5 separate regions of the Homo sapiens genome follow, and all the other regions are linked to region 1. Evidence: fine-mapped expression QTL. A gene starts in region 1. Each other region holds a variant in brackets. All regions are shown on one strand. Distances are between the middles of the regions. Region 1 holds the start of SRGAP3 (SLIT-ROBO Rho GTPase activating protein 3). Region 2 holds the start of SRGAP3-AS3 (SRGAP3 antisense RNA 3). Region 3 overlaps SRGAP3 (SLIT-ROBO Rho GTPase activating protein 3). Region 4 overlaps SRGAP3 (SLIT-ROBO Rho GTPase activating protein 3). Region 5 overlaps SRGAP3 (SLIT-ROBO Rho GTPase activating protein 3).

Evidence for each region. PIP is the estimated chance that this variant, and not a neighbour inherited with it, causes the effect.
Region 2: its variant is fine-mapped to the expression of SRGAP3 in whole blood (TOPMed, PIP 0.97).
Region 3: its variant is fine-mapped to the expression of SRGAP3 in lung (GTEx, PIP above 0.99). The same link has a PIP of 0.9 or more in thyroid, tibial nerve, transverse colon, unexposed skin and whole blood.
Region 4: its variant is fine-mapped to the expression of SRGAP3 in esophagus mucosa (GTEx, PIP above 0.99).
Region 5: its variant is fine-mapped to the expression of SRGAP3 in whole blood (TOPMed, PIP above 0.99).

Annotation. Positions count from the first base shown.
Region 1 is chr3:9,246,973-9,251,972 of GRCh38, forward strand. SRGAP3 (SLIT-ROBO Rho GTPase activating protein 3) reads right to left here and starts at 2,674. Exons shown (of 22, transcript NM_014850.4): 1 at 1,913-2,674. The coding sequence starts at 1,979. SRGAP3-AS4 (SRGAP3 antisense RNA 4) reads left to right here and starts at 2,784. Exons shown (of 3, transcript NR_146969.1): 1 at 2,784-2,849. RefSeq lists an enhancer at 2,453-2,692.
Region 2 is chr3:9,216,084-9,221,083 of GRCh38, forward strand. The region is part of intron 1 of SRGAP3 (SLIT-ROBO Rho GTPase activating protein 3); the gene reads right to left. SRGAP3-AS3 (SRGAP3 antisense RNA 3) reads left to right here and starts at 812. Exons shown (of 5, transcript NR_103443.1): 1 at 812-906; 2 at 1,279-1,393; 3 at 1,648-2,470; 4 at 3,126-3,273; 5 at 3,384-3,425. The variant C/T (reference allele first, on the strand shown) is at 2,336.
Region 3 is chr3:8,991,308-8,996,307 of GRCh38, forward strand. It overlaps SRGAP3 (SLIT-ROBO Rho GTPase activating protein 3), which reads right to left. Exons shown (of 22, transcript NM_014850.4): 19 at 3,036-3,216; 20 at 1,599-1,748. Among named protein-coding and RNA genes, the nearest start is that of RAD18, 30 kb to the left of the region's middle. The variant G/A (reference allele first, on the strand shown) is at 2,079.
Region 4 is chr3:9,145,519-9,150,518 of GRCh38, forward strand. The region is part of intron 1 of SRGAP3 (SLIT-ROBO Rho GTPase activating protein 3); the gene reads right to left. Among named protein-coding and RNA genes, the nearest start is that of SRGAP3-AS2, 44 kb to the right of the region's middle. The variant C/G (reference allele first, on the strand shown) is at 2,420.
Region 5 is chr3:9,223,189-9,228,188 of GRCh38, forward strand. All of the region lies in intron 1 of SRGAP3 (SLIT-ROBO Rho GTPase activating protein 3), which reads right to left. Among named protein-coding and RNA genes, the nearest start is that of SRGAP3-AS3, 8.8 kb to the left of the region's middle. RefSeq lists an enhancer at 1,208-1,467. The variant TG/T (reference allele first, on the strand shown) is at 2,725.

The sequences.
Region 1 (5,000 bases):
AGCCAGGGCAATTAATGCCTAACTGGCCCTGAAGAAAAGTTCACTGGCCCAGTAGTAGCAATCCTTCCAAAATGAGATAAGCACATTTCCTACCAAGAAAATATCATAAAACCTGAACTGTCCAAAACTCAACATCCCCTTCTCTCTCAAGGCATTTTCATGGCAACCTTAATTTTTATAAAATAATAATAATTGGCCAAATTCATTTTATAAAACATAAACTCCCTAAAAAGAGTCTATTCAAAGATTGAAACTAGGCTTTTGTATTGAGCAGTTGGGTGAATTAAAATCTCTGACCAATAAAGCGCTTATTTCTAAATTTTCAGCAAGGCTGAGACATCGTAAGTCACTGTTTTCCACATTGAACTGAAAAACCAAAGACAGGAGACCAGGGAAGAGCAGGGTTTTCTGCTCCTCTTGCCCTAGGATATGCCCAGAGGTGATGAGCACGCTGGGCTTTTGACCAGGACTAAAAGGCAAAAAGACTGTTGGTGAGACTGGAAAAAAAACAGATCCCTCCCCCCGTGGCTGCTCCACTCCCAAAGTTTCCCAAGCATCTGAAGCGTGTATGGCAGCTGCGGTGCCCAGCCTTCCCGCTGCTTTTAAGGAGGCCACCCAGCTCCCTGGGTCATTGGGTCTTCAGTTGCAGCAGCGCCCAGAAGCAGGTGTGGCAACCTCAGGTTGCTTGAGCCCCAAATACCCAACTTGCTCAACAGCCTGTGCATAACCTCAAAGATAGGCCTCAAGGTCCGCTGAAGATGCATTTTGTCTTTACTCTTTCTAGGAGAGGCCACAACACACCCTGTGTCGCAGCAAGGAGAACCATGACCAGAAAGAAAGCGGACGCCAAGAGGCACGAGCCCAGGCTTCCCACAGGGCACATCCTCAGAGAAAGGAGGAGCCTGCTGGATGGAGCTTTTAGATTTTCCTTGCCAAAGCTGAGCCTAGAACGTGTAGGGGTGGGAGAAGCCCCAGTCTGGCCTGAATGAGGATGCGGCAAGCCCGCATTTAGCCATGCAATTGTGTTCCCTTTCCTATTTCGCCTGGCTAGCGTGGATTTAGGGAGCGGCTTCTGAAAGAAGTATACACCCGGTGGCACAGAAGGTGCAACCAGCAGCCAGAGGTCATCTCGCCCTCCCGGCAGGCTTCTCCTGGAACCCCGGAAGCCAGGCAGCGCTGACCAGCCCAAACGGCATGCCGAGGTGTTGGCTTTGAATGAAAGCTGATGAACCTAAACGCCAGGGCACAGAGTGATTGGGCTGCACACTGCGAGATAATACATTTTCTGCACCAAGCTCCCTTTTTATGCCCAAATGCCTGCATTAGTCTGGATCAATATGCCCCATAACAGTTAATCCATGGCAACCCAGGCCAGCCCAGAGACACCGACAAAGAAGTGCCGCCCAGGGATGCTGCCTCGCTGTGCACATGCATGTGAATTCCGGCCCAGAGAAAGAGGCGGAGGCAAAACCACCACCACCAACAGAAACCAAAAAGGGGGAGGAAAAAAAGAGCAGATGGTAAAAAAATACCCCAATATTAAAGGGCTTTTACCATGGCAGGGAAGGGGTGGAGGTAGTGACTATCAAAATGGCCTTAGAGTGACATGTCACCGCCAAGATGATGGGGTATCAGCGACACTCCTAAAGTCAGGCATAGGATCCTCCTCACACACCTGCAATGCAGAGACTGCTGCCCATTCCATAATCCACACTCCCAGCCCCAGCGCTATCTGCAGTTGAAACCAGTCCGGACTTGTGCGGCTGCCACTGTTACTCCTCACAAAAAGATTATTGATGCATAACATTTCATAATGGCAGAGAGGAAAACGGGGGGCAGCGGGGGATGGGAACCAGAACAAGAGAAAAACGAAAGGGGAGGAGAAGGAAAACTCTCCCAGCCCGCATCTCACCTTTTATTTGGGCTTCATATTCAGCAATGATCTCTTTGTCTTTCTTGAACTTAGTTTGAGATGACATCTTCTGACGTGGCCAAAGGAACTGACAGGCTGTTTGATTTATTTCTCCTTTTCTTTTCGAGTCCTCTCTCAAGCCCTGGTAATCACACAGCTCTGGTCGATTTCACAGGTTTAGGGACTAATCTCTTTCACTTGGCTGCAGAGCAGGGAGAAAAATCCTTCTCCTTCTGGAAGGAAAAATCTCTTTACTTGCCGAGAAATGGCTCTAGTAGCTTGCCCTGGTCAGCTCCTCTTGCAAAAGAAGAATCACCCTAGGAGCACAGTAACCTGCCCCAGATTTTCAAAGATTTTTCTTCCAAAAATAATAATAATAGTAATAACCAAGCGCACTCACACACACATGCACACGTACACACACTCACGCATGCACAGGCACACTCACCGGGACACGCACACAGTTGTGCTGTGCACACAGGCATACACACACACACCCTCACACGCACACACACTCGCTGGATCACTCACACACACACATCCACGAGAGGCGCGGCGCCTCTTTGGTCGTGCAGCCAGCCCCTGGCTTGCTTTTGAAGGCTCTGCTAAGTCGATGGTCAGGTTGCCAAAGGGCCGGTCATCTCGCATCCTCCCTCCCTTCGGTGCCTCTGGTCTGATGTCCAGTGAGGATCAAAGCCAGGAGAGCGAGATGGAAGTTTTCCTGCTGCAACGCTTAAGCTCCGGTGAACACAAGGCTGGACTGCTCGCCCTGCAGGGCTGGCTGAGCTCTCCCCCACTGCTCACGTCACTAGACTCCGCCTCCCGGATTTTATAACAACTGACACATTGTAGCCTACAGGAGAGCAGAACTCACTGCAAGCAAAAAGGGGAAGAAACGCTCACAAAAGGGAAGGCAGCAGGAAAAGTAATCGGGTTGGTAAGTCTTGAGAGGCTTCTGCAAACTCCAAACATTAGCACTTGGGTTAGGGATTTTTCTTCCAAAAACTTAAGATCCTCCCTTTTTTTGCACTGTGCAATTTAATTCAGTTTCTGGAATCAACAGCTATATGATGGTTTGTCACTCTACTGGGATAGTCTAGCAGAGGGCCTGACCCATGTAGGGAAAAGCATCAATATTTGTTGAGCAGTTACTTGGTGGCAGAGACGATGCGAGGAGTTAAAGGCATGCAGCTTAGCAAAGCCACGCAGAGCAGGCACACTGGAGGCAGAACAGCTGGGTGGGTCATTGGCTTGTGGGGCTCTGGGCAAATTCATAAGTCAGACTGAGCCTCAGTTTCCTAGATAGTAAAATCAGCTCTCTTTGGAGGCTATGTTATTCATTCTTTCAACAGATATTTACTGAATGCTTACTATAGGTCTAGCACCGTTCTGGGTACAGGGATACAGCAATGATCAGAACTGGCACACACAAAAATCCCTGACCTTCTGAAGCTCCCGGGGCTCCACATCACACAACTCCAGCAGTTTCCACCATTCATGCTAATATTCTTAGTAAAAAGCACCCCTGGAGTAGAAAGCATTGTGAATGGTGCCCCCTGGAGTTGTACGAGGCAAGAGGCCCTGGGAGAGGAAGACCAAAAATAAGCACAGTAAGTATATTATATAATATCATACAAAATGTAAAGTGCTATGGGAAAAAATATTGCAGGGTAAGGAACATCGGGAATGAGAGGAGCTCTTGAAAAGATCAAAGAAAAATGCAAAGCTAAGCTTAGCACAGTCTCTGGTGCATAGCAAGCACTCAATAAACAGTAGCAACTGTTATTACCCTTTTATATCCCCCAACAACCTAACAACATAGGTATAAGCACCACTCTTTCACAGACAAAGGAGCAGAGGCTCAGATATGGGAAGTGACTTACCCAAGGTCACCAGCCTTCCAACCCAGGCTCAAAGTCTCCTGCATTCTACAAGGGAGACCAAACCCATTTCATGTGGAATTAAGGTAGAATAAGATTCATTCTGTAAAAACTGAGTCAAGCACTAAAGAGTCGCTGATCACTGGAATTTCATATGCTAAGATTGTCACTAATGTGTATTGGCCCCTGACTGTCCCCTGAGATAAATGTTCCCAAATTTCTCAAAATAGGTATAGTCTTCCATTTGCCTTTTTCTGAGTCTATAATAAATGATTCTGTTTGGACTCAGAAATGAATAGGTTATCCATGCTAGTCCATCAAGGCTTCCTAGAGGACATGGCAGCTGCAGTGGGCGTCCCCAGGCAAGTATGGCAAAGGGAGTGAGGCGGGGCAGGATGTTCTCCTGGAGCACACAGCATGAGCTGGGGCCCACAGGTGGCAAAGCACAAGACCTGCTTGGAGCAACGACAGGGAGAAGTCCAACTGGTGAATCATGGGGCTTATTATAGCCTTGTACCCGGAGGCAGGAGGTCACCAGTTCAGAAATAGATGCCACTGGCCCGCAGCCCTTGCCATCACCCCACTGCCTCACGCCTCCCCTGGACATGTTCAGGCCCTTTGCTGTCCTCTTCTAACTAGTTCAAACCCACAAAAGCCCCACGTTACCTGAGAAAGATGGGCACAGAGATTAACATCCCTGCTGCAAGTCTAGATTCTTCAAGAAAAATGAAAGTTAAAACCATACACCTTGGAGTACGACAGACTGGATCCTCTCCTGGCTCTGCCACGAGCCTTGAGCTCATGAGAACTTGAGCAAGTGGCTCAACCTGCTTGTGTGCCCACTGGTGGCAGGAACTCAGTAAATGTCAGCTATTTTCACCATTATTAAAATTTTAAATCCACAAATAGTTCTAGGAGACCTATGTGTAGGGTGCTGAGCCATGGAAATGTCACAAAAATGTCACAAAAAGCCATACAAAACCAAGGCCAAAGATGGTATAGCGCTCTGAGCTGACACCTGGCAGAGGCTGGGTTTTGGAGTAAGTCAGATGGTGGTTTACCTTCTGGCTCTGCTGTGCACCAGCTGTGTGTGGGGCTCATGGAGGAATACACCTTCTCTGAGTCTTGGTTTCCTCATCTGTCATAGGGTAGTGATCCACCCATGGCACAGGATCCAACACGATCATGGATTTAAAGTGCCTGGCATA
Region 2 (5,000 bases), 31 kb before region 1:
TATCTGGAGGCCCCTGACTAATGCACACTCAGAGGGCCTGAGCACCAACTGTTAGTATGCACACTGCAGATGTATCAGCCCACCAGGTCATTCTCTTATGCTTTCCCTCTTCTGTGCTTCATCTTCTTACTTCCACAGACCCTTCTAGAACACTCAGGCCCTGCCTCTCACCTGGAGGCAGGACCATCCCCCACAAGGGGAATACAAAATTATGGGCATACGTTTTAAGTCAACACAATGACTGGAGAGTACTACCAGCATTTAACGGGCAGGGGTCAAGGTACTAAGCATCTGCAATATAAGGGACAGTCCCCACAGTGAAGAACTGCCCCACCCAAAACACCCTGTGGAGCAGCCACAGCCCGGTCCTCTCCGTATCGTTTCTCTGAACCGTCTCCCACCTTCCTCCTACACTTCAGGCTGGCAAAGCTGAATGGCCACAGAGCAGATACCCTAAGAAATGCTAGCCCAGTGCTCTCAGAAATAACTTCAACTCGATGGACTGTTGCAGTTACGCACTGTCACAAACAACGATTCTTACTTCAGTCCCACGTAGAGGACAGGCTCCGATGTAATGGATGAGGAAACGGAGGTACTGAGGGGCCAAGTCACTTTCCCGAGCCATGGCTAAAAACTGACAAGACCGCAGCACATGAGCCACACCACGGAAGCCACCCAAGTGTCCCTCCCCAGAGGAGCGGATGAACGTGATGCGGCCTCTACGCATACAATGGGATATTACTCCGCCTTAAAAAGGAAGGGAATTCTGACACACGCCTCAACACGGATGAACCCTGAAGCATTACGCTAACTAAACTACAGCAGACACAGAGGACAAATATTGTATGAGTCCGCTCACACGAGATGCCTAGAGGAGCCAAAACCACGGAAACAGAAAGTAGACTGGTGATTGCCAGGGAATGGGGGAGGAACAGGGAGTTCCTGTTCACTGGGTGCAGTTCCAGTCCTACAAGATGAAAAGTGTTCTGGAGATGGATGGTGGTGACGGTTGCACAACATTATCAATGTATTTAACGTCATTGAACTGTGCATTTAAAACGGTTAAGATAGTAAATTTTATGTGATGTGCTTTTCGACACAATAAAAAAAAATTGACAAGGCTGGCACTCGTTAACTGAGTTCCTAAATCAAAATCCACTCTCCTTAAATTATACCCCAGCCCTAAGGTCTAAATGAAAACATTGCTGCCTTTCCAATACATTGGGCTGTGAGAAATTTAACTACTTTAACTATTAATGGCCCAATCCTGTGCCACAGGGGCCTCATTGAGATGCCAGATTGCTTCTTCAAGACCCTCCAAGGGGGCACGTCAAATTCTGATGGGCCTCACCTTGGACAAGGCTGGGGTTTTTAGACCAGCTTTCACAGCCTGGTAAGACTCCCTCCTCCCCGCAAAAGGAAGGGGATCTACAGAGGGTGGCCAACTTTTCAAAGGGTATTCGGGGCAGGGAGAAGAACTACCTCAATTGTTTAAGAAAGGATAATTTCTGACACACACATACACACACACCACACCACACCACACGCAGGAAATGAAGACCATCATTTGTGTAATAAAGAGCAGGTCTTGAATTGTGTGCCATTAGGTTTATGAGAAAATGTCTACATTGTCCTTATTTTTTTCAGGTTGCTCCAGTGTCAAGACTGACAGTGATCCAGGGACCTTTAGGGCAGACAACTTCATTGTGACAGAATGAGACCTGTGGCCTTTGGACCTCGGTGGGGCCATATGTCACCCCTGCAGGCCCCAGGCCCCCCAAGCCACCAAGAGTCACAGAGGCAGGGAGGGGACAGGAGGAGATCTTGCCCCCACTGCATCTGGCTCTCCTGCCCTCACCATCCGCAGCAGGGGGTACACTACAGCTTCGGCTTTACAAACACAGGGAAAAAGCTAACACAACCTTTAAGCCGCATTAACAGGATCAAGGGATGTATTATTAGTCCTGCTAGCCTCCGAACCATTGAGAGTACTTCTGAAAGACAGTGCTTACTTAGCTTGGGCTCCAGATTTTAAGAGACCCGTTAATAATTTGGAAGGTTTATTAGCAGACTGCAGATCCAAAAATGGTCCTCCTCTATTTGGGAAGATATTGCAGGAAACAATGCTCTAGGAGAGACCACAGCTGGGCCAGCCAGATTGGTCAAATCCACCCTAGAAATGAATTAGGGAGAAGAGATGGCAGCCAGATGGCTTTTTAAATGTTGATAAGCTGAAGTGTGGCCAGAAAAAGAGACCAGAGAATGAGGGAATAAGTCACCTAAAGCATGATGGCAGAATCTAAGCATAAACGCTTAGCAGAGAAAATAAACACAC[C/T]GTCCATATACACCATGCCCAGCCCCAAGCCCAGGGCAGATCTGATACTCTCCTGCTGACCCTGACACAGCCTCAGAATACTTCTCAACACAGACCGCCAGCTGTCACTGCAATCCAGCACAGTTGGCACATCAGGTAGAAACTATTTCCCACCGCTGATTTAGGAGTACATAAAAGCTGTCTTTATTTTATTTCATTTTATTGAATTTTTTATCTTTTAATTTTACTTTTTATTATTTATTATTTTTATTTATTTATTTACTTTTTGAGATGGAGTCTCACTCTGTTGCCCAGGCTGGAGTGTAGTGTTGTAATCTCTGCTTGGCTCACTGCAACCTCAACCTCCCGGATTCAAGTGATCCTCCCACCTCAGCCTCTCTAGTAGCTGGGAATACAGGTGTGAACCACCACACCTGGCTAATTTTTGTATTTTTAGTAGAGATGGGGTTTCACCATGTTGGCCAGGCTGGTCTCAAACTCCTGACCTCAGGTGATCCACCCACCTCGGCCTCCCAAAGTGTTGGGATTACAGGCGTGAGCCACTGCGCCCAGCCTATTTTATCTTATCTTATTTTATTTTTATTTTATTTTATTTAAATAGAGACAGGGTCTCACTATGTTCCCCAGGCTGGTCTTGAATTCCTGGCCTCAAGTGGTCCTCCCACCTAGGCCTCCCAAAGTGCTGGGATCACAGGTGTGAACCATCATGCCTGGCCAAAAGCTGTCTTCAAATGACGAAACAGCTACCATGAGGCAGCCAGCTTAGATTTTAGTCTGTATTGTTCTAAAGGAGAGAGGCATCTTGCAGTTCCACTCAAGAAAGACTTTCCTAGCAAGACTTTCCAACAATGCAAATAGTCTCATTTCTGAGGTGGTCAGCCCCTTACTGCAGGAAGTTCCAATCAGAAGCCTCATGGTTGTCGAGGACTCTGCATCAGGTGAGAGTTAGGACGTATGCTGTGATTCTTGAGGTTCAGTGTAATCAGGTATGTACTAAGCCATAACATGTGGCAGGAACAGGCACACAGGTTATCACCTCTATTTACAGATGAGGGGGCTTGAGTAACTTTACCCCATGAGGAAGCAGAAGATCAAGAATTCCTATCTACAGAATGGAATACCATCCAACCATTTAAAAAGAATGAAATCCTGGCCAGGGGCAGTGGCTCACACCTGTATCCCAGCACTTTGGGAGGCCAAGGCGGGTGGATCACGGGGTCAGGAGATCAAGAGCATCCTGGCTAGCATGGTGAAACCCCGTCTCTACTAAAAACACAAAAAAATTAGCCAGGCATGGTGGTGGGCACCTGTAGTCCCAGCTACTCATGAGGTTGAGGCAGGAGAATGGTGTGAACCCGGGAGGTGGAGCTTGCAGTGAGCCAAGATCGCACCACTGAACTCCAGCCTGGGCGACAGAGTACAAAAAAATAAAGAAAGAAAGAATGAAATCCTGTCATTTGCAGCAACATGGATGGAACTGGAGGTCATTATGTTAAGTGAAATAAGCCAGGCACAAAAAGATAAATATTACATGTTCTCATTCATATGTGGGAGCTAAAAATGTTGATCTCATGGAGGTAGAAGGTAGACTGATCATTACCAGAGGCTGGGAAGGTAGGGTGGGGCGGGGAGGAAGAGAGGTTGGTTAATGGGTACAAACATATATTTAGATAGAAGGAGTAAGTTCTGGTGTTCAAAAGCACAATAGGGTGACTATGGTTCAAAACAAGATATTGGCTATTTCATAGTAGCTAGGAGAGAAGATTTCAAATGTTCCCAACACAAAGAAATTATAAAAGTTTGACGTCATAGGAATCCTCAACATCCTGATTTGATCACTCCATATTGTATGCATGTATCAGAATACCACATGTACCCCATAAACATGTGCAATTATTATGCATCAATTAAAGCAATTTTTTAAAAAAGAATTCATATCCAGATCATTCGAAGTCCTGCATGTAGTCCACTCACCTCCAGGAGAGGCTGCAAACATCAAGATGAAGCCTCCTCTGCAGCTCCTGGGTCCTCAGATGTGCCTCTGCTGCCTGCTCTTTCCTCCCTAAAAATGCTGCCCAGATTATCATGCAATGGCCCAACAGCTGCTGCTCCAAAAGTTTCAGGCACAGGGCTCAGCTTCCATACTGCTGGACAGCAGGCATCTTGTTTGATCATTATATCTCCAAACAAGAGTACTCTCCACAAAGGGACACAGATGGGATCCTTGACATTGGGCTTAGTGTCTTTGTCCCCAAATCTCAGGCACTATCATTCTTTTGGATCAAGGCATTTAAGGCATCTGTCCCAATGCAAATGTCACTAAAATTGGGTAGCACCTAAAGCCACATTGATCACTGGCTCCCTAGATGATTAGCTCATCATTGGCCTTGAGGTCCCAAGCAAATGGGACACACACAGGAAAGTTTTAATGAGAGGACAGGGAAGAGGATGGCTTGAGGAAAGGCAAAGCAACTCCATCCACATTGCTAGTCCTGCTGCTGCCTCACAGCCCAGGGCAGACCCCACCTCCCATCCTCTCAGGTCCCACCTCTGTCCCACCCCGCTGGTGACAGCATCTGCCTTAGTCCCCAGTGCCTGAGTCTTATTCCTGAGTATCCCAGCCCCATGGCCAGGACATGCATCTGCCAGCCTGGACTTCCTCTTG
Region 3 (5,000 bases), 260 kb before region 1:
CTGGGAACTGAAGACACTCTAACGTTGCCACCCAACCCCCAATCTCCCCAGAAGAGGGCTCCTTCTGCGAGGCTTTTTTGGATCTTGGAAAACTAGTCATTCAAGAGTAAACACTGCATGGCTGGACAGCCCTTTTGTGCATTTGGTACCTTTCCCACTTCAGGGAGGCTCTGGTGTGGTGAAAAGGGGATTAGGTTGTGTTTCAGGAAGGTGAGTTCTTGCCCTGTGTCTGCCGCGTGCTTTCCTGTGTCCTCTCTCAAGCCCACTTTATTAATCTGTGAAGCGGGTTTAAGCAAGATCCTTTGCCCACCCTTTACCTTTGCTTCAAGTGGGTTTGAAAGCACCTTGAAGATAAGAGGTTCTATACACAGGAGATTTGGCTGCATCCTACAGAGGTCACCAAGAGTCTGAAGGGCTAGAAGTGGTGAGGGGAGAGGGAGAGGGACCGTGTGTTGGGAATGGATTATGACTAGGGACCACCAGTGATTCAGATCCTAGTGCCACCAGCCAAGCTAAGCAGTGCTTGTGGGTGCCCCAGCAGGACCAAAGCATAGGTATTGGAAAGGAAGCAGTACTTAGAAAGAAAGAACAAGAACAAAGGAGGTGAGGGCGGGGGACAAGGGAGAGGAAAAGAGAGGCAGAAGATATGGTCCTCCTAGAAGTCAGGGGACCATAACTTCTTTGTCTACCTACGCCAGCCTTCCACTTCCCTGACCTTCTCAATTCCACCACAGTGCCCCGAGCTATCTGCTGAACTGAATGGAATTTGCAGAAAAGAGGCATCAGGATTTTTGCTGAAATAAATTCATAAATTGTGTGTTCCCACTGTGACTGATTTTTTTGGGGTCTATCTGCAAATACCTACATGTGTGGGCTGACCACATGACCCCTCCACTGGAAAAAACATAGAATATGACATTTTGAGAGTGTGACTAAAAAGGCAGTGAGAAACTGTCAGCTTTTCTTTTCTTTTCTTCTTATTTCCTCATTAATTTTTTAAAAAATAACCACATACTTTGGATTATACCTGTTCTCAGAAGGACATGCACAGCTCCTTGCCTGGTAGAAAGGTTATGTGACACAGCCTGGCCCACACATAGGGAGCGAAGAAATTGGTAATACTGCTCCCTCCAAATAAGTGGGTGGAGTCGAGTGTCAATTTCCTTCAACACATGAGTAGGTGTGAGTTTTCTGTTTATGTAGCGCGTTTCAGGGAATATGTGAGCTTTACATTTTTAAATATAACAACTCAGTTCTACAACAGAAAGCTGGAAGGAGGTGCAGGAACTGGACACAGGTAGGAAAAATACTTGCCAATTTGTATCTCTCTCACACATTATTATTATTTTAAATAAAAAAGCACTGGGTTCCCAACACATGTCTTTCCTCCTCCTCCTCCCTGCAACACAGGCTGGATGGTTCTATACCTGGCCTTCTTGGGCCAATGCCAGCCAGCCCGCCCAGTGTGCCCATTTCATTTTGTGGGGAACAAGGGGCTGCAGTAGGCTCCTTCTCTCCTCTCTGCCCTTGTGCTTCTCCCAAATCAGACATGAACAGGATTGACACCAGCAGGGAAAAAATGAATCCGCATATCCTACCGGCCCATCACCCCCCCAAAGCCGTAATCCGAGATGTGCTCCGTGGGGGACTGGAGGTCGTTTTTGGAAGAGGCCTTGTCATCCAGCAATGGCCCACTGCTGGCCTCGCTGTCAGCCTTCTGGCTCAGGCTGTCGGAGAAGGCATCATCCCTGGGGAGAAGACAGACATGAATTGGAGGCACCTTCCCCCAAAGAACCCAGCATATACAGAGCTCCCTGATATGTGTCTGAGGGGCTGAATTAACACAACTTATGGTTACTTTGTGCCCACAGCGCTTGCTAGGCCACTGCCCACTGGGTGCCTTCCCACCACGCATGCCCATTGCAACACTCCTGGTCAGTTTCCGCAGCTGGGACCCTCTTCTGTCCCACACCTACCTCCTCCTTTTTTCTCTTCTAGCTTGTTCATTCCCAGGCAGCTCCAGGCTAGGACAAGCTAAATGCTGCAGGGTGTGTTGGAGAAATGGGGGGATGGAGTCC[G/A]CAGGCTGAGCACCGAGGGCTGAGTGCTGAGTCTCTGTGTGACTTCATGAGAAATGGCTTCTGGCTAAGCAAGGGAGGAAGAAGCTGCCTCTGCCCCTCACCTCCCCACCCAGGGCTTGGGCTACTGTGAGGTGGCTCCCAAGCTTGTTGGGGTGCCCTGCCGGCCTCCTTCCACGGCCCTCTGCTGTGGTGACTTGTCCCTGATCTCAGAGGTCTGGGGACTTCGGGAGGCTGCCAAGGGCCCTCCACTATGGCATTCCTCTGGCAGTCTGCTTGGCCCTGGCCTTTTCTCTGGCTGAGACCCCCTCTCTCCCATCACAATGTGGGCTGTTGATCCCCTTCCCTTGAGGCTCAGCTTGGTGGCTGCCTCTATGGTAAATCTGTTCTGCCGAGCCTGACCAGAGCTCCCAAGGAAGGTGTGCACTGGAAGCTTCCATGGCTTTCAAAGGAATGGAAAGTGCAGACTTTTTGTGGTAGGACTAGGCATTTGGGATGCAGGGCTCTTTTTCATTAACCCCTGAAATTATTTTTTAAAAAATAGTACCCTATTAATCAGAAACAAGGGCATGTTTCTGCCCATCCCCTAAGAGAGCTACCTCTGGAGTGTAGAACCGTAGGCAGGGGAGGCCTAGGAGGTGGAGGCACATGGCAGGATCCCCTGGATACTGAGAGCCCTGGTGGGTGATGGCACTCCCTGGGGGCTGTCAGCTGCATCAGGATGTAGGCCAGAGGCACCCAACACCGTTTCTGTGTGCTCAGAAGGAGGAATTTGGATATCCGTTAAGTGGATCACCATTTAAAGGGAAGTTAGATATTACCCATTGTTAGAGAAGAACAAGCGTATGATATCAAGGAGAGCAAATTGCTGGCATACAAGCTAGCACTCCCCTACGGTGCCCATCCCAGACATCACTAATCTATTTCGGCATTCTTCACAGAATTCTCGACTCCACTCACATGTCCTGTACAACTATGTACTGATGGGGGATGAGTCCATCCACGCCGTTGTGCCGGCCCTCCCACCAGTCCTCCGAGGCGCGGTGGTACAGGAGCAGCGAGGCCCCCTTCTTGAAGGATAGCTCACGCGGGGACCGCCCCATGTAGTCAAACTTGGCAATAGCCTCGATCTGCTCCACTTCTGGAAGGAAATCAAGGGAAAAAGCGTCTCTGAGGTCAGCAAAGTGGCAGCTCAGGAGCCTCACTCAGATGGCCCTGGCTTCTCTGGGGAAGGATAGACTGCACAGCTGGTGAGAACATGGACAGAACGCCTGGTGGGCTGGGGCTCAGGACCCTGGGGTCCTAGCCTCAGATCCACTCTCCACCCTGCAACCTCAGGAAAACCATCAAACCCTCAAAATGTAAAGAGGGAGCTGATACATGCTCCTTTTCCACTGCCCTTCTTGTTCTCTACTTTTTAATGCTCATTAAGACAATATTGTAGAATTTTCGTTTTCTTCCACCCCTTAACACAAGTTCTATTAATATTTCTATTTTTCTATGCACCCTTTTCCTCTTTGTCATTTATAATACTTTTAGTAATTTTTAATCTTTTGAGAGGCCACATCATGTATGCAGACTCTAATCTGCAAAATCCGATACAGGATTTTAAGGGTACCCAGACCCTTCAAAGCTCATTGTTAAGGACTGAACTGTGTCTGCCTCAAATCTATATGTTGAAGCCCTCACCCACAACGTGACTGTATTTTAGAGGCTTTAATTAATGTAAATGAGGTGATTAAAGTTAAATGAGGTCATAATGGTGGGGTCATAATCCTAGTGCTGGTGTCTTTATAAGAGGAGCAGAGGCTGGGCGTGGTAGCTTATGCCTATAAGCCCAACACTTCGGGAGGCTGAGGCAGGAGGATCGCTTGAGTCCAGGAGTTTGAGACCAGCCTGGGCAATATAGTGAGACCTCATTTCCAAAAAAAAATTTTTTTTTAATTAGCTGGGCGTGGTAGCACGTGCCTGTGGTGCCAGCTACTCTAGGGCCCGAGGCAGGAAGATCACTTGAGCCTGGGAGGTTGAGGCTGCAGTGAGCCATGATCATGCCACTGTACTCCAGCTTGGGTGACAGAGCAAGACCCTGTCTCAAAACAAACAAACAAAAGTTCTTGTACAAAAGGGCATAGCTTAGTACAGATACTCATGAGGTATTCGGTTGACAGCAGCTGTCATGACTGTGATTATAATTATTAATGGATTTGGCCTATGGGATGCGTCCAGAGAAGAGACGTTGAACTGCAGAGAGTTTAAGTGTTTTAAACTGCATGGTTTAAGGACCATACAACTAGTGATATTTGGGGAAGAGACGTTTTGGGGAGCAGGGGATTGTGCCTACAGTTTATTCCACCTGTTTTATAGTTTCTACCCTAAGAAGTGTCCATATGTGGTAGAAAACTGATTTTGTATAGGTATTAATGTTTTAATATTTTAAAGTAAGCACAAAGAGGTTTAACATTATAATTCTTACTTTTTTTTATTTTAATAGAACAGAAGAGTAACAAAAGCAACCCCTGCCCTCTCTCTAGCCTGTAGATAGCTTCTCCATGCTGAGCTTTCTTGGGGCTCTCTATCTGCTCCATTCACTGTGGACAATCTCGTCTTCATCGATCTATTCATCCACCTGTCCATCACACAGTTAAGCTCAGAACATTTGGCTTTACCATTTTTTAGTTGTGTGACCTTGGGATACTTAGTTTTTCTTTCTGTGCCTCAGTTTCCTCATCTGTTAAATGGAAATGGTAATAAATAGAACCTATCTTACAGGGTTATTAGAAGGATTAAGTGAGTGAATATACATGAAGTGCTTGCAACAGTGTCTGGCACATAGTACCCTATAAGAGTTACACACATGTTGTTACCAGAGGCTGGTGCACTTCTAAGGGCCACGGATGGCATGGAAAAATCAAAGAGCAGGAGGAG
Region 4 (5,000 bases), 100 kb before region 1:
CCCTATTTCCATATTCAATCATTCATTTACAGATTCATACAACATTTATTAGCATCTGCCAGGCTCTGTGCTAGGAAAAGAATGTACAACCCTGGGAGAGACTCAGGAGCTTCCCTTGAGGAATTCGGCAGACACTAACAAATACAAAAAATCACAACATTACAATGAGCTAAAACAGGGGTACACACAAAAGAAGAACATCAAGAAGGAAAGGAACTCAGGAAGTAGGGGAGATGGTAGGAACTAAAAGGGCCAGGGAGGTTTCACTGGGCATGCATGCCTGGCCTCAAAGGTTGGATAGGAGTTCACCAGGTGAGGAGAGAGAAGGCATGAGGGATATGGTGAGTGGGCAAAGGCCCTGAGGTCTGGAAGTATGTGACCTGTTCAGGGACTGGCGAGGGGTTCAACAAGGCTAAAAGTTAAGAAGTTTAGCAGGGCATGGAAGAAGCTCAGGCAGAAAGGGCTCCTTGTAGCCATATGGTGAATAGCCTTGAAGGCCATGTTCAGGGGCTTAGGCCTTACCCCACAGTCAATGTTACAGAAAACCTGGTGGCAGCATAGAGGCAAGTGAATCGGTAGAAGAGACTAGTTAGAAGGCTACTGCCATACTACAATTAGGGACAGGGAGACTCAACTAAGACTTATCAATCGAGCTCCTTCCATCAAGCAGGTATTCCACGTGTTGACTGACAAATCCTGGTTTGCTAACTTGTACAAGAACCCCATGCGTGGAGTGCCACAGGGCCCATCTCAAATGCAAAGGTTCTTGTAGTAGAGTTCACACACAGCATTTCCCTTAGACTGCCCAGTTTAGAGTCCCGCTCCACCTGTAGTTGGTGATAAGAGTGGCAGTGATGTGAAGCTGCTGCTATAATAGCAGGGACTTTATAGCCCCAAGCGAAACCAGAGGTGCAGACAGGTAACCCCAGCATCAATTTCTATAACTGATTTCAAAAATTAATGAAAAGGAAGCCAGTCTGGGAGAAGAAGTGGCCTCTAAGTGAAATATAAGTTTACATTTACCCCTCACCTGGTGAACTCCTACTCATACTTCAAGGCCCAATTCAGATGTCTCATGGGAGATGATGAGATTTCATGAGAAAGCTTGGCAGAGTTAAGGGAAGGGCTTCTTCCACACCTTGGCTTAGCACAGGGATGGTTCTAGAGCAACACAGACTGATGGGAACACAGGGGCATCTGAAGGTATGCAGACAGAGAGCACCAGGACCAGGTGCTAGAAGAGGAGCGGGAACCCCACAAGGTACACCCTGCAGGGCGCGAGGACGATGCGTCCCTCTTGGGTGCTTGGCAGGAAGCAGAGGTCAACCACAGCATGAGCAGAATTGTTCATGTACACGTGAGATGCCTCTGGAGACCTGACGCCCAGCGGTGGCAGCCTGCTGTGATGCAATGTAGGCTATGAGTGGCAGAAATGGACCCCCTCCACGCACACCTGCAGTTTGGTAAGACCAGAGACGTGTGGGATGTGAAATTAATCCAGCTAGCACTTACCAAGTACTGAATCTATACCCAACTCTACATCTGTTACTTCTAAAACTTTCCCTACAACACAGACAATACCATTCCCATTGTCAAGATGAGGAGGCTGAAGTTCAGGGAGATTAAATAACTTGCCCAAGGACACACCCCCATTTTTACTTCTTACTTTTGCAGAAGTAAACACAAAACAAGAGGAATGCTTTCTGGAAGTCAGAGCCTGCCAGGCCCCCACCTTGATTTCTTCTACTGTAGAGGACAAGAATATGGGGTTGTGGCAGCCACCAGAGAAGTGGGGTAAGGGGTCAGTAGGCTCAAGGGTTGATCATACTCCAGTCAGATTCAAAACCCATCTGTGCGAGGCAGTTTCACACACCTGATCTCATTTAACACTGACCACAAACCTACAGCAGCCTAGGACTGGGAAACGGTGGTTGAGTTAATGAACTCGGCTGTCAGGTGCTGTAGCCACAACCTGAGCCCCGGACTAGGTGAGCCCAGACTGAAGGCTCCCTGCCCCTAAATCTCAGCCACCTCAGCTTGTCACTCATCAGTGCATCAAAATCCCTGATTCTGGGCACAGAATCATTAGCCAGATGAGCCCTTCCAGGGAAGATTCCAGGCAGAATGATTCATGAGAGAGGAAAGAAAAATAACAATGTGCTCGCAGCAAGAAGCATCCAAGCGCTTCCTTTTGCTCTGCGGGAATTGGATGCATTCTGGCCCAGGTGTTTCCACACAGCCGTCCAGAGTGGTGGCCTCTGGAGAGAGGTGAAGCCTCCAGGAGAAAGGAATGCAGCCTGTGCCAGAGCCACTAAAGCAGATGACATGGGCAGGCCAGGGTCCACCAGGGCTGTGATGGGGCCCAGACCCTCAGATGGTGTCACCACACTCTGGCCTCTCCCTCCCATCTTTCAGAAGC[C/G]CCTCTGCAAAGTTTGGGAATAAAAGGCATTAAGCCTCACCTCCCACGCCTGAGATTGTCTCCAGAGCCAGGGAGGGGCTGTTTTGTTGGTTTTCTTCCTCCAAAGCCAGTGAGAGAAATACCCACGGATCCAGTTTAGCTTAAGTGTCCAAGAGAACCTCCATTAGCATCTCAGGGAGGACAACGCTAATCACCAAGGGCATCAACTTCAGGGAGGGAGAAGGAGGAGCAGGAGGAGGAGGAGGATAAAGGGATGAGGGCGGAGATGCCTGCCTCTCCTCCAGAAACGCCGGCTTTTATTTCAGGGACTGGAAGAAGAAAACGCCCTAGAAAAACCATCAACCCCAGCATTTCTCTGTGCTAGGCAGAAAACAAGCAGAGGAATGTGTGCTACAAGCACCAGCAATTTTGGGGGCAGTGCCTCATGGTGTCATGCAGGAAAAGAACATCTAGGAAGTCTTGTTTGTCATTTTCTTGGACTCTGGAAGCATCTTTTCAGAACAGTTTACTCCCAACCATCTCATCTGGGGAGACAGAGGAAGTGCCATGGGGTGAAGCCAGACTTGTCAAATAGCTACTTTGGCAATTATTTGAAACAGGGTACCCCCATTTCCAATAATACCTTACAACCACAGAGTGTTTGATATTTTTTTGAAATCCATTTGCATCCATTATTTATTTGACCCCACGGGGCCTCCAATTTACAATGGAGAACCTGAGATATCAGAAGCCTGGGACGTGGGGCCTGGGACATGGGGCCTACAGACAGGTTCCTCATCTCATAGTCCATCCTTTCTCCACTACCCCATGCTCCTCCCCAGTTCTGGGGGCCAAGTGCTTCTGGAAGAGCAATTCTGCTTCCCATGACACAGCACTTTACAGTTTGTAATCCTTCCCCAAACCTGAGAGTGGGCTGAAGAAAGAATGGATTCCTTGGAATTATGTGAGTTGAGCAGCATCAACATCATTCCCTTATTTCTAGGGAATGAAACTGGAGACTGGGTATGGGGGCTCACTCCTGTAATACCAGCACTTTGGGAGGCTGAGGCAGGCAGATCACAAGGTCGGGAGTTCGAGACGAGCCTGGCCAACATAGTAAAACCCCATCTCTACTAAAATACAAAAAATTAGCCGAGCGTGGTGGCAGGCGCCTGTAATCCCAGCTACTCAGGAGGCTGATGCAGGAGAATCGCTTGAAGCCGGGAGGCGGAGGTTGCAGTGAGCCGAGATCGCGCCACTGCACTCCAGCCCAGGTGACAGTGCAAGACTCCGTCTCAAAAAAAAAAAAAAAAAAGAAAAGAAAAAAAGAAACCTGAAGCTAGAGAGCCCATCTGGCACATGTGTCTTCCCCTAGGTCCCAGTTAGTTGAGAGCTGGCCAAGTTCATTAACTGCACCTCAGTTTCCTAATCCTAAGCTATGACCCAGGACTTTTGATGTCCCATGAGGCAGGTTAATTGCATTAATAGCCCCACTTCTTCAGTCTCTCCTTGTATCCATAATCGTTGCCATGTGTCTACAATTCCTTTCTCACTAAAGGGGCAAAATCTAGTTCCCCACTCCTTGAAACAGAGCTGCCCTGTGACTTGCTTTGCCCAGTAGAATGTGCTACTCCAGCTACAGTCGGGCTCCAAGATGCCTTGAGTGTCTCTGTTTGCTCTTGCACCCCTGCCATCACCAGCAGCACATGTCTGGGCTGGCCTGCAGGAGGGTGAGGGAAAAAGCAGTGGCGCTGCACTGCCCTAGTCACCTTAGCCAAACAGCCAACCTCAGACATGCAAGTAATCCCAGCCAAGTTCAACAGAACTGCCTAGCTGACCTCCAGATAACTCCAGACATGTGAGCAATAAATACCTGTTACTGATGTCACCAAGGTGATATGGTTGTCACGCACAATTCTACGGCAGTAGCTAACAGGCTCAAACCACCTAGCACCTGTTTCCCCCATCTATTCATGCACCCCATCCAGCCAGCCATGGCTCCATCCATTCATTCACCATGGGTTTGTTGAGTGCCCCCGACGTGTCCAATACCGTGCAGGTGCTGGGGAAACAGTGGTGGGCAAAGAACACACCTGCCCCTTTCTTCATGGAGTAAACAGACCACGAAGGAGGACTGACAAGCAACTGTAATCCAGTGAGATGAACACTGGGATAGGGCAAGTGCAGGGCACAGGGTGGATACAGGGAGGTGAGCCTAATGAGATGAGGGGGTGCCAGGGAGATCAAGAGGGGGTCCCGAAAGTAATGGCATCTCAGCTGAAATCTAAAGGCTGAAGAGGAGTGGGCCAGGGAAAGAGCTATGGGGTGAGGAGAGGAGGGTCAGGGAGAATGTCCCCAGCAGAAGACACCCTGGGCAAAGGCTGGAGGAGGCAAGTGACCATCTGGCTGGAGCCCAGAAGTAAGAAGGTGGGAGAGGAAAAGGGAGCCTGGAGAGGCCAGCACCGAGAAGACCCAATCTTCATCCCAGGCACTTTTTCCATGTTTATTTTCAAGGCCAAGTTAAACCCGGAAGAGATCATAGAAACTTCTTCCATGCACAGATGGAGAAAGGAAGGCAAAGGCCACAGAACACTTTCAGTGT
Region 5 (5,000 bases), 24 kb before region 1:
ACTTATTTCTCTATTGTCTGTGGATGTTTTTGCACTACAAAGGGAGGGCTGATTGGTTACAACAAAGACCATATGGCCCACAAAGCCTAAAATGTTTATCACCTGGTTTTTACAGGACATGTCAGTAGGTCTAGAAGATGCCAATAATTACACTGTAAAGAAAAAGAGTACCTAGGTTAATAAGTTCAGGAAATAATGAATTAAATAGATTTTTCTACAGGACTTATCAGAGTCTTTAATACATAGAAGTGAGCTATGAATCTTTAGGAAGGGGATGCAGTAGAATGTTTTCTACACTTATTTGAACACAGAGCCCTTTGCTCAGCACACATCTTGAGGGACTGGTGCTCCAAAGTCAGGAGGAGTTCCTCATGATACATTAAAGATACTCAGTCCAACTCCACCTGCATCACGGGGTTGCTAGGGAGATCAAATGCAATGCAACATGAGTGTGCCATGCAAGCCACAAGGCAAACAAGAATCACCCCTTCATCCCAGCCACTCATCAGGTGTTCCAAAGGCATTTTATCCCCGTTTCCCACCAGCCATTATGAGGACAGACACAAATGGCTTCAAGGCATCAACTGTTTCCAAGAACCTGCTGATTCTGAAGAACCATCCCAGCCTTCATAGAAAAGTGCATGACTGTAAGGTTAATGGGAAGGGTTGCTGTGAGATTCGATTTGTTTCCATTAAAGAACATCAATTAATCTTGATTCTGGATGGAAGACAGGCACTTCTCCTCTCGAAGTTTCAATTAGCTCCCAGCACTACACAGGAGTGAAATCGGCTCCAGATAGATCATTTCCTTGTGCAATGCCATTTCACAAGCCACGGGGCTCTGAAGGAAAACAGACGCCCCTGCAGAAGAGAAGGCCTGACCCTCCTCTCCAAACACGCCTGCAACAAACACATGCATACACCATGCCCGCAGCCCTTCCACATGATACCTACAGCAACAGTCAGGTTTCGTCACCGAGTGCTACCCAAGCCAAGTTAATAGAACAACTCATTTAGACATGAGACTTGGCTGTTTCTGACTCAGACCTCTGGAAGCCCCCAGGGAAGGCTGAGCCGGTCAGGACCCCAAACTAGGTAGCAGCCATGACATTCGTGTTGAAATGTCATGCCATTTACAAGTGGTGTGGAAAAGGGAATAGAGGGAGGAAAGTGTGAAGGGAGATGGACGTGTGGGAACACCACGCACCCCTCCTCCACCCTGCACACTTAACCCTGTTCAGGCAGGTCAGAGGGTGCCTGCCCATCTTCTCCCCCCATGCAGACTCCAGCATCTTCCAAATGTCGAGTAATCGTGGAGCACCCTGCCATTCCCAAGAAATACCGCCTTCCCAAAATTGCCACAATTCACAAATACCTTCATATCTGTGGGAGAAAGGCCCCAAGAAAGGGCGAGTCCTTAAACAGAGAGATAAGGGAAAAGTAAAAGGGAAACTCAAAGGATGACTCAATAAAAGAATACACTGAGGCAACCACAGTGAAAACACGAAACTGCCACCAGATGGCTGTACCATGGATGGCCAGACAAGCTCCTATGTCTACACTAGAAATAACTCAGAACAGCAGGGCATCTCCTAAGTGAGAAGCCTGCAGAACCACACAGGGAGGGGCTGGCTGTGCAGGGAAGTGGTGTTGGAGGGTGTCCTATAGGTTGTGAAGGTCTAGGATGGACAATTTCAGCCTGAGAACCAAAAAGCAGAGAGACAGAGTCAAACAGCGTGGAAGTCTAGCAAATTCTATTGCAGAGCAGGGCAATCAAGAGGTCTACAGGCAGGCCTCACTCCCCTCAACTCGTAGCAGCCAACAGATTAGAGCTAACAGTCCTTGAAGATTCCTGCTTCTGGGTAAAGTGCCTGCAGTTTCTACCACCAAATCCCCAAACTTCATAAAAAGATTCAGTTCTCTGTCTCTCACCAGCAGATGACAGAGAGGTTCTGAGCCTGGAGTGAGGGGCCTTTGGAGAGAACAGTGCTTCACGTGACACTCAGGGCTTCCAAGCAGAAACTGCCCAGCTCAGGACCCACCTGAAAGCAGCTCTGTCTCAGCCACTTCCAGGAAATCCATCTGGTCTCTCTGCACCCAACACCACCTTCTCAGGGCAAGGATGGTCAGCAGCTTCCAGGAGAGAGGAGACTACTGTCTGCAAATGTCTAGCAGGCTTTGCTGAGGAAGAGGAAGCCACTGTCCTGAACAGCTCCAGAACAGGCCCACAGTGTGGAAGTTACCAGGTTGAAGACTTGGGTCATTATAAGGAAAACCACTGGGGGCCTTGGAGCCATACAATAGAACAGCTGGGGGTGTTTACTGAGATGAAAGAATTGGAGGCTGACTGTGTGTGAGCCACAGGTACTTTTTAAAAGCAGCTATAAAAGCATTTCTGCTCCCACTCCCTCTACCCCAACCCCATCCCCTGGCAAACTCCCAGCTGCCCGCCCTTCTGCTAGGGGATGACCAAGCAGAGTCCACAATGGCACCTTAAGGTCACAACAGCGCAGGGCCTTTAAAACAAGCCATGACACCAGGGATGGCAAACTCCAACACCTATTGGGGCCAGGCAGGCCGGGTAAACAGGTGACGCAGGCCAGGTAGGGAGTTTAGGACCATGACCAAGGGAGAGCTCAAGTCCTGCCACAGAAGGGCAATCGGTGCTCATCCCCAGAACAAAAGCCCAGCGCTGCCAGACCTTCTGACTTTTATAAAAGCTGC[TG/T]GGAAGTCCATATTTTATACAAAATCTCCTCATTTTTACAAGTTGGCATCTAACTCACATTTTTAAAAGACACAGTACAGGCCAAATAAAACACACCTGAGGCTGGATCGGGCCCATGTGCTGTCAGTCTGCAAGCTCTGCATAAAAGTTCAGCTTTAAAAAAAAATTACCAGTAATGTGCAGAGCAGATCCTGCCCCGCAACCCCAACCCCCGACCCCTATCTCTGAGAAATAAGGCAGGGGGTCAGGGGTGGGGTAGAGGCAGTGATATCTTTTGCCCACATTACTTGGTAAGAACTGGAAGTTTACATTTCCATTTTGAGCCTCTTCAGGGAGTCCTGCTTTCCTCTATCAGAAAGAGTTTTACTTTTGTTATGGAAATTATTTTCCTCTACTGGGCTGCAGAAAGCAGAAAATCTCAGATTGGCAGAGACCTTCTAAGTCACCTAGAACAAATCTCCCTCTGATGCCTAAATCCCCACTCTTGACAATCTCTTCCAGGGATTCATCACCCAGCCTCGAGCACCTCCTACGCCTGGGAGATCAAGGCTTAGGAGACTGCCTGCCTGTTCCTTCAAGACAGCTCTAATTGTTAGAAAGGTCTTCCAGACACTAGACTTCTATAAACGCAGCCCAGAATCAGATTAGGTTTTTTGGCAACTGCCTCACAGTGACTCACAGCAAAACTCACTGTCAACGAGAACCTTAAGTCTTTTTCACAAGTGCTGCTGCTAAGCACACCTCTCCCCAGTCTACAGACTGGTTTTCAGACATAAGGGCAAGACTTTACACTTTTTCCTCATTAAATTTCAGCCCACCTACATGGGGTGATGAGATGGCCATCCATTCACAGCTACAAATCTGTTAATTTCTCAGATTGTTTTCAGAGGACCATGACCCCATCTCTGCCCCTCAAATTGTTGAAGCTGATGGCTCTTCATTTCATCGATAACACAGATGGCACCATGAGCACCTGCCAGGAAATGCAACCTGCTATTCACCTTCTCCAAACCCCGTCTGCAGGAAATGATATTTATGGAGGATTGGCTCAAGGTGGATCCATTCCTCCAGGTCAAAAAAACCCACCTGCCCACAGGAGCCAAGCAGGCAACAGAAATGAGCAAAGTGGGCCAGGTGGGCACTGGCACAAGTCCGAGCCCCTGTCCCATTGGAAGGGAACAGCCAATTTTTGCCTCTGAGAATGAGGGCCCAGTGTTCCTAGATCTTCCCATTTTCTAAGAGCTGCCAGAAGTCTGGATTTTTACATGAACTCCCCTGATTTTTTTTAACTCTCTTCATTTTTAAGTGTTGGAAATGATGAATTCATTTTTGTAAATCCTGCAAAGGCCAAACAAAACATGCTAGTGGGTCTAACTTTGCCTGCAAGCCATCCGTTCTGCCATGAATGTTGTAAATTTCACTCTTGGATTGAATCGACCCCTCAAAATCTGGGTAAGAGTAATAACAGAGCGCACTTATTGAGTGTGGCCCACATTCCAGACATTGGGTAAGCATGGGTTATGTCATTTAATCCTTGCAAGAGTCCAATGGGTGCCCATTTGAAAGAGGAAGAAACTGAGGCATAGAGAGGGGAGATGCCTTGCCCAAGGTCAAGCAATTAGTAAGTGACAATGTTGGGATTCAGTCCTAGATCTGTCTGGCTTCCCAGTCCAATGCAGAGTCCTTGGACCACACTGTTTGGGCAGAATTACTTCTTGTGAATTGTGCTTTGGTGTTAAAATTATCAAATTACATTGCGATGTTTTTAACTACTAAAAATGCATTACGGTGGCTACGATAGGAATGACTAAGGACACCATCTAATGCATCACTGGGTCTTCAGTGGCCTCTAGCACCTGAATGCCCCTCCCTCATTCCCCTCAGGGGTTGGGGGGCAGTCAGAGACAAATACAGCAGCACTTCTTGTTGGGGGAGAGTATCCTGCCCTTGAGTAAAACTTCAAACTCATCCTTAAGGAGATGACAAAGGTTTTACTGGAAGTAATGACAGGGAGTCTCCATGGTGAAGTTTGAAAGGATGATGGTAAGTCGGAGGCAGTTTTCCATCACAGACATAGAATGGTTTGTTATGCTGTCATGCAATTCTCATTGTACAACCCAATCTGATGATCATAGTTTGAGACAGAAAATAAAGCATAACTTCTTGGCCTAATCCAAAGGTGGCAAACTCAAACACATGTAGAAACCAGGCAGGTTAGGCCAATGACAAGCAGCAGCAGGTGTAAGAGAAGGGTGTCGTGGGGACCCAAGAGCTT